Linked DNA regions of Homo sapiens: region 2 is linked to region 1. The links come from fine-mapping of genetic effects on gene expression. A gene starts in region 1. The other region holds a variant in brackets. All regions are shown on one strand. Distances are from middle to middle.

The links. PIP is the estimated chance that this variant, and not a neighbour inherited with it, causes the effect.
Region 2: its variant is the best candidate, but not a certain one, in a credible set for the expression of TNS1 in whole blood (TOPMed, PIP 0.65).

Annotation. Positions count from the first base shown.
Region 1 is chr2:218,000,715-218,005,099 of GRCh38, forward strand. It overlaps TNS1 (tensin 1), which reads right to left and starts at 2,281. Exons shown (of 33, transcript NM_001387777.1): 1 at 2,126-2,281. The coding sequence starts at 2,158. RefSeq lists enhancers at 725-1,225, 1,226-1,726, 3,467-3,566.
Region 2 is chr2:217,806,806-217,811,190 of GRCh38, forward strand. TNS1 (tensin 1) reads right to left here. Exons shown (of 33, transcript NM_001387777.1): 29 at 3,443-3,514; 30 at 3,018-3,186; 31 at 1,798-1,866; 32 at 1,270-1,302. Among named protein-coding and RNA genes, the nearest start is that of DIRC3, 19 kb to the left of the region's middle. The variant C/T (reference allele first, on the strand shown) is at 2,328.

The sequences.
Region 1 (4,385 bases):
AGGACTGCTTCCTCTGTCCAGTCCCTACTGCCCCAGTCTCTGGCCCATCCTGGCCATGGGCATCACAGCCAGCCTAGAAAGGATGGGGACTAGGAGAGGAGAGGAAAAGGAGACAGGGGAGGGACACAGGCTTTTCTAGTCTTAAAGACACTCAAGGCCAGGCGCAGTGGCTCACACCTATAATCCCAGCACTTTGGGAGGCTGAGACGGGAGGATCACTTGAGGTCAGGAGTTCGAGGCCAGCCTGGCCAACACGATGAAACCCCATCTCTACTAAAAATATAAAAAATTAGCTGGACATGTTGGCACGCACTTGTAGTCCCAGCTACTCGGGAGGCTGAGGCAGGAGAATTGCTTGGACCCAGGAGGTAGAGGTTATAGTGAGCCAAGATCATGCCATTGCACTCCAGCCTGGGTGACAGAGTGAGACTCCATCTCAATTAAAAAAAAAATGAATAAATAAAAATAAAGACACTCAAGGAAGCAGCACTCACAGCTGCCTTGGTCCCCAGACTCTTCCCCTTACTCTCAGGGAGGGTATAACACCCATAGGGCACTCTACCTGCCAGGCACTGCCCTGGGGAATTGGATACAAAATTTCATCCCTACCTCTCTGTACCCTGTTTCTCTGCAATCCTCATTTCACCAACGGGAAAGCAGAGGCTCACCAGGATGAGGCACTTTTCCCAGTATCAGTCAGCTGAAGGGATCTATAGAGCCCTCTCTCCAGTCACAGCAGCTCGTCACCCCTGGAGGTCTACCTGCCATCCTTCTTGTGTCACCCCTGGACGTCTACCTGCCATCCTTCTTGCTGCAGAGCTCCCTCCTGCCTACCTCTGTCCTCAGCACAGAGACGAACCTGGCCAAGGCTCCCATTTCCCAGATGTCAACACCAGCCCAGTAAACCACAAATGCATCCTGTGTGCAGGCCTCCCCAGTCACTCTCAATCTATTAATCCAATCCATCCCAGCACCCCAGCCCAACATGCCACCCAAACCGCCTCATTCCAGGCCCCCTCCCCCACCCTTTCTTTCTTTGCCCAGAGGACACCTGGCTGCCCGAGTTTGTGTTCCCACAACTGCCCCCAGCATGGGCTTGCCTGGGCCAAGAGGGCCCTCCCGAGGACTGGCCAGAACAAGGAAAGGGACAGGAAAGGCCACATCTGGATCACAGCCCTGAAGCCCCCTCCCCCAAACCAGCCATCACTCTCTCAGAGCCCAACAGTAACCTCAGCCAGGGACGACTTCCTCACCCTCCTGACCCCATGCATGCCTTTGCCTGGCCAAGACAGCCCCACAGGAGCCCCTCTGAGGAAGGGGTCCTCTCCTCCTCTGACCCCCAGCCCTTCTGCAGCAGGCAGCCCTCTCCCATCCCCCTTTACCCAGGAGCCTCAGCCCAGGTCTGGCCTTAAGACTTTTAACCTTCACCACGTGGCCCCCAGGCCTCTCTGCTGGCCCCCCTGGCATCCCCATCCTGAAACCCACCTCCCTGAACCTGGAGCCAAGAGAGAAAGGGGGAAGAGCGGGCCATGGCTCCCTCCTCCAGGATGGAGAGGTCTTGGTAGCAGGGGAGGGCTGTGGAGGAAGGGATGGCAGTGGGTGGAAGCTGAAACTGGGTGTAGAAGGAATAAAAGGGATGGACTCTGAGAATTCTCCCACAGCCCAGCTCTTCCAGACTTAATATTTTGGACTACTATTCTTTGCTCCCCAGCCCCACCACTGCCTCCTCCTCAAGATCTTGGGCTCAGCAACTGAGGGGGGGCGGTGAAGAATTTTCACCCCATTGTAGGATGCAAGTCGGGAGGAAAGGCTCTAAAGAGAAGCAAACTTCTCTGTGGCCTCCTTCCACTTACAGCTCTGGGACTCCATTGGGGGGTGGGGGGGTGGGGCAGGGGATGTACTGACCCGGGACCCTGGGCCTGGGCCCTGTTGGTGGGGAAAGTCTTCCGGCTGAGGGTTGCTCAAGTCAGTCTGTCCTTCTGTAGGTCAGAGACAGAAAGGCCCCTCCTTCAAGACTGACACCCCCCGACCCCGGGCTCTCAGCAAAAGGATAAGGTGGCAGGGGCCGGTGGGGGGCGGGGGGTTTGAGGAAGAGTAACGTCGCAGCTAAAGCAGCCAGACCTACCCAGAGCATGCAGGACAGACAGATCCACGTCATCTTTGCTGGGTCCCGTCACTGAGGCACGCCCAGGGCCTGTGAAGAGCCCCTGAAGCTAGAGTCCCCGCGGCGCTGGCAGAAGGGCTCTCTGAGTCCGCGGCTGCTCCGGCTCCGCCAGCATCTGCTGGGCCTCTCGCCCTGCTGCCTCCAGCTCACCCTCCCTCCTCCTCCTCCTCCCCCCACTCCACCCCTCGTCCCAGCCTCCTCTCTCCTCCCTCCTCCCAGGCTCCACCGGTGGCCTTGAGGGTCAGGAACCCTGCTTTGCAGGGGGTGTAAAGGGGACAGGGAAAAGGGAAAGCTACCAGAGGCAGGGCCCCCCCAGGCCGTGCCCCCCACCCCCGGACACACAACCCCTGTGTGCCACCAAGGCTCCTCAGTCTTCTGATCTGGTGCTGGTAGGCCTGGAGTCCTCCCTCCTCACTGCAGACCCCCGCCCCTGGCAAACCAGCCTGGGGGCCTTCACTCCTGGAACCCTCCAGACCACTGATGGATGAACAGACAGCCCCAGGCCCACACAATCAGCACACTCAGGGTGCCTTGGCCCCTCCCCTTCTCTGAGTACCCGTGCCTGCCTTCCTGGCCTCCTCGGAACACACATGCATTTGCACACACAGACTGGGACAGACTCTGGTGCCCACGCGCCAAGCTCAGAGCCCAGGACAGGCCTTAACACAGAAGAAATAGGGCCCGAGACTGGGGAAGAATGGCCCTGCCCCCAGGCTGTGGGTTTCATTCCAATTTTTTTCCTATTTCTTTTTTTTTCCCCCTTCTTTCTTTCTTTCCTGCAAACATCTGTCCCAGCCTTTCCTGCCCTTCTGAAAGGGAGCCCCGCTCCAGGCTCCCGCGAGAGTGTGTTTTTCTTGACTGTACCCGGGGCCAACATTTGGTTTGCATTTCCCCACTTCCTCCCCCTCCTCCCCTCTCCCCCTCCCTGGGCCCAGTTCTCCCCTCCCACCATTCCACAGGCCTATTTCTTCCCCTCAGTGTCCCCTGCCCACCAGCCCTCCCCTCCCCTCGCCCCCACCTCTGCCCAGGGACAATTGTTGGGGGTCTAGAGGGTGGAAAGGAGGCTGGGTCAAAACCCAAAAGTATTCCCACGGAGCACTAAGGGGGAATCCAGCAAAGTCTGCCCCAGGCCTTCATTGTCTGGAACCACCACGTTCCCCTCCAAAAAAAACCCTTCCTCTTTGAGCTCTGGCCTTGGCTGGACCAACTGAGGGTGGGTGGGGGCCAGTGAATCACCCGCTCTGTTCTTTGGAGCTGTCCAGGAGAAGGAGGGAGGGCTCAGCCCCACACCCTCCTGTGGACACACACACACACAAGGACACAGTCCAACTCACGTCAACACATAAGAGCCCTCCCAGAGTAGGCACTTGGAGACCTCGTTCCTAGACTGAGTCACTTAGCAAGAAAAGTTCTCTTGCCTGGCCTCCTATGCACACTGTGCTATACATGCCCTGGGGCCACATGCACGAAGGGTTACAGATCCCCTGCCTCCCCCCCCCACTCACCCAAGGCCATGCCATGCCGCTGTCTGTCAGCACCACATACCGTGCAACTACCAGCCTCCTCTTTCACAGGGATCTGCCCAGCCACTTGTGCCAACTCCCAGCCCAGGGACCACCCAAGACATCTACCTGGGAAACCCCAGAATGAAGGGGAAACACTGACTCTTCATCTGAAAAAAAGACTGCAGTATTCAGATACACAGGTTGTCCACAGCACAAGGGACTAACCATCTATTGTTTGGTGGTTCTGAGAAGTCAGGGGAGGACACTGAAGTGAAGTGTCAATTTCCAGCCCTTCCTAAAGCAGGTACCTGAGTGAAGAGTCTTTGTTCCGGTAGAGGAGTCAGGGTCCTCTCTCCATACTTCTCCAAGTCCTCCAGAGCTCTGGGGCTGGGAAAGATCCTGCCTCTAGTGTCCTTCCCTGCCAGGATCACAATGTCCCTCTGGACCCCCTACTCTAAGCCTCCTGGGGCTTCACTGACATTTTAGCCAACGCTGAAATGAACCAGTGTTCCACATGCAGTTGGCCCTGCAGTCACAGCTGGGGATGTCCATAGACAGAAACCTCTGCAAACCCTCCCGTCTCCCCTGGCTGGAGCACCAGGCAAGCAAAGGGGAGTGGTCTTCAGGAGGCCTCTCTGAGAGCCCCTGAGCCCCTCCTCAGCCACTATCACCAGCTCTGCCAGGCTGCCCTTGTCCCCTGACAAGTTCAAGCCTTC
Region 2 (4,385 bases), 190 kb before region 1:
TCTCATTTCTTCACTCAACAAATATATACCACCTCCCCATGTGTCAGACATGGCCCTTCCCTTGGGGAGCTTGCAGGCTGGTGGCCATGAGGCCCCTCCCCTGAAATAGCCCCTCCTACTCCCATTCTCATTTTGACCTGTCCAAATTGAACCTGTCTTTGAAGACCCGTCCTTAAATATCTGCTCTTTCCACCTCTCTGAGGTGCTGATGTGTTCTCCTGCATGAGCTCCCCAGACGTAAGCTGAACTCTCTTGCTGCCTCTCCCTCCCTTGCAACTGTCATTTTTTTAACACTGAACGTTTTGTTTTTCTAAAGCAACCTTATATGAAGTCTGCATATATAAAGGTGAAAGCAGTATTTTACAGCTATAAACAGCAATCCAAAAGCACGACATTTACCTATTATAAAGTCAATCAGTGAGGATAATAGGGCTGTTGGAATAATCCTGACAAAGTGAAAAGTAGATGACAGATCATGGTGATAGTCTCATGTCAGCTTCAGACCCCAGGTTATGCCTATATTTTGTTTGGTTTTGTGATTGTGAAAAAACCCTAGTTACTGCTGATAGACAACTGCAAGGAGCAGCAGAGCTTTCCCTCTCTTCTGTACATCAGGTACAATCCAAGGATGCTAGGATCCTTGGAATACAGTTTGAAAATCACAGAAGCATCTTAGTGCTATTTAGACATCTGTCTTATCTGCTGTGCCAATGGGCCTCCTGAGGGCAGGGTCAGAGACCCAGGCAGGATCTGAGTCCCTTGGAGGCCCCTAGGACATGTCTGCTGGATGGAGGAATCCACCCGAAGGTCCCAGGGCCATCCCCAGAATTCAGACTTTCTGGGCTCCCACATTCTGATAAGGCTGATTTGCTCGGCCACAAGACTCACAGGAAAGCCCACCAAAAAAGCAAGAGCAGAAATAAAGGCAGCTAGAATTGGGGCAGAAAAGATCATGTAAGCAATCTCTGACCCATTTCCATTGCTTCTAATAAGACTGTTTTCTGTCCACTTCCTGCCATCCCTGCTGCTTCTAACCCTGGGAGAGTGAAGGCAGCTGGACCAGACGCTGGGCCTCTGGCCTCGAGGCAGGACAAGGCAAAAGGCCTGGAAGCCTGGTCAAGCTTCACTCGGAAGCTGAGTGACCTTGGCACAAAGGTTTTTGCTGCTCTTTCCCTACCCCCAGCCCTGGTTTCTAAATGTGCCCCGTGCTTCCCTCACTGTGAAGTACAAAGGCCAGCCTGCTGGGCAGGGGTAAGAAGTCACACTTACTTAGCAGGGGCACCACCCTCTGTTTTCATCCACCTGTGGAGAGAAAGTGGGCTCAGGGTAAATCATCGTACTTTCTCCCTAGAGCCCAGCCCCACCCATGCCCAGACCCTCTGCAGGAAGGTCTGGGGAGAGGAGCTGCCCCCCATTCCCCCCTCATTCCCCCATTCCCCCATTCCCCAGGGACAGGAGCTGCCCAAGATCACACAGATGCATTCAAGGTCGAGAGAACACTGCAGCCTGCCTCCTGAGGGGCTCTCCCCATCATGGAGAGGAGAAGCAGATTCAAGGTCAGGGCATGGCAGAGGGGGTAGCAGTGGGCACTGAGTCCCTGGGAGGGTCTCCATATCTATAGTGGGAAAGACTCAAAAGATGCCCAACACGATTACTCACACATGGGCAGACCTTCCAGCTGAATGGAGAATGTATGCACATGCACACACACACACACACACATGCACATGCATGCACCCACACAGACGTCAGTGTTAGAAAGCTGTGTGGGAGAGAAGCTGTGTACAAGAGACTTACTTTCTTTCCTGTGGATCCAGGTCACAGAAGGTGACAGTGTTGAGAGGGTAGTGGCGTCTGAAAAAGAGCCTGCAGCACAGACATCAGATAAACAGAGAATGAGTGCTGAAGGGGCTGCTTTTCCCCTCCTTCCACCAGCAGGTCAGGCCACCTTTCCACCATCTGTGGCTATCGCAGGTCCACACAACTTCTCTCTTATGAGCAAGATGGCCTGAGCTGTTGACACTGGTGACCCAAGCAATGTACAGAGACAGATGTGCCATAGAATCATCCCAAATGCTAGGGGCTGGGGAAGGAAGAAACTGGCACTGAGGAATAGGAAATGTGGGGAGGGGCTGGAAGAAGAAGCAAAGAGGCCAGGGACACTGTTAGGAGAGAGTCCAAGTGGACGGGCTCTGCTCCTAGAAAGCAGGTCCTTTTTATCAGTTGTATTTACAGCCGTATACCCAATGCTGGCAAATTCTCATAGAAGGATGGATGAATGGGTGGATGGATAGATGAATGGAGATACAGATGGATGAAGGGAAAAA[C/T]GGGTGGTAAGGGATAGATGAGGGATGAATAAATGCAGGGATGGAGGCATGGATGGATGGATGGATGGATGGATGGATGGATGCATGGATGGATGGATGGATGGATGGATGGATGGATGCATGGATGGATGGATGGATGGATGGATGCATGGATGGATGGATGGATAGGTGCATGGATGGATGCATGGATGGATGGATGGATGGATGGATGGATGCATGGATGGATGGATGGATGGATGGATGCATGGATGGATGGATGGATGGATGGATGGATGGATGGATGCATGGATGGATGGATGGATGGATGGATGGATGGATGGATGGATGCATGGATGGATGGATGGATGGATGGATGGATGCATGGATGGATGCATGGATGGATGGATGGATAGGTGCATGGATGGATGCATGGATGGATGGATGGATGGATGGATGGATGGATGGATAGGTGCATGGATGGATGGATGGATGGATGGATGGGTGCATGGATGGGTGCATGGATGGGTGCATGGATGGATGGATGGATAAGTAGCTGGGTAGATGGGAGGTAGATGCAAGATAGATGGATGAGAAGGTAGATGAGCAGTTGGGTGCAAGGAATCAATCAAGTGGTAAATGTGTGGGTACACGGATGAATAGATGAGTCACAGGAAGGAGAACCCCACCGAGGAGCAGGCAGGGGAGTCTTACTTTCTCTGGTTGTCAGTCAGAGTGATTCCCTGGGCAGAGACTTTGAAGTGAACGATGGTGGCAGCTGGCGTGGGGTCTGCAGCCAACGTCTCAGATGTGGCTTTAGAGATGGCCTGTGGCCCAGTGAGTGACTCCATGTCCACAGAGTTGACGAAGAGCACATTGCAGGCTGGAAGAAACCAACCCAAGGGGGAGTCATGGGAGCTGGCGTGGGTGAGGACATTAACCCAGATCCATTCTTCAGGGAGAAGGTAGCAGATAAATTTCAGGCTAGCCTTGAGCCAAGGCATCTGCACATAGAAATGTGATCTTCCCAGAGACATTTGGGCCTGGAGAGACCTCCAGCCTGCACGTGCAGGAGGGGTCAGGGCAGGAAGGCAGAAAGAGAGGCCTGGGCATGGGTACAGTTTCAGGTGACCACTCACCTGCCCCTTGTTTCAGCAGGTCTGCAGTTGAGTTGGCAGGGCCGGAGCTATCTTTCGATTCATCTGTGGGGTCTAAGACAAAAATTCAGTAGGAATTAAAACCCTAGAGCTGGAAAGAAGCACAAGTTTGGCTGGGCTGAAGGTGAGCTCTGCAACTCTTTGGCAGAAGGAACGCTGCTTTTCATACCAGACCCTGGCAGTCAGCCCTGAGTTAGGCTCAGTCTGAACGTTTGATGATTGCTCTAAGCAGCCAGCACACTGGTTGTGAGCTCTGGAGTCCAGCAGAACTGGGCTCAAACCCTCACCCCAGCACTTACTAAGTATCTATAAAACAAAGACGATGATCATGGTACCCACGTCACTGGGTTTTTGAGCGACTCCATGTACAGCTTAGCCAGTGCTTAACATAAAGCAAGCCTTCAAGTGACAATTGGCATTGCTGTTATTGTTTTGCATTGATATATCTTTGTGTAGGTCAATAAATCCCCTAATTCCCCTAATTCATTAAACCATTGATCCAGCATAACTCTAATTTCAATATTAATAAGAATTGAGTGATGGATATATTAGCATATTGATGTAACCCACAATGTATGCATTTATCAAAACATCACATTGTACATGGTACATAATTTTTTTTTTTTTTTTGAAACAGAATCCTGCTCTGTCACCCAGGCTGGAGTGCAGTGGCATGATCACAGCTCACTGCAGCCTCAAACTCCCATGCTCTAGCAGATTATCCCACATTAGCCTCCAGCGTAGCTGGGACTACAGGCATGAGCCACCATGCCTGGATAATTTTTTTACTGTTTTGTAAAAACAGGGTCTTCTGATATTCTACAGGCTGGTCTTGAATGCCTCACTTCGAGCAATCCTTCCACCTCAGCCTCCCAAAATTCTGAAATTATAGGCATGAACCACCATGCCCAGCCAATATTTGCAT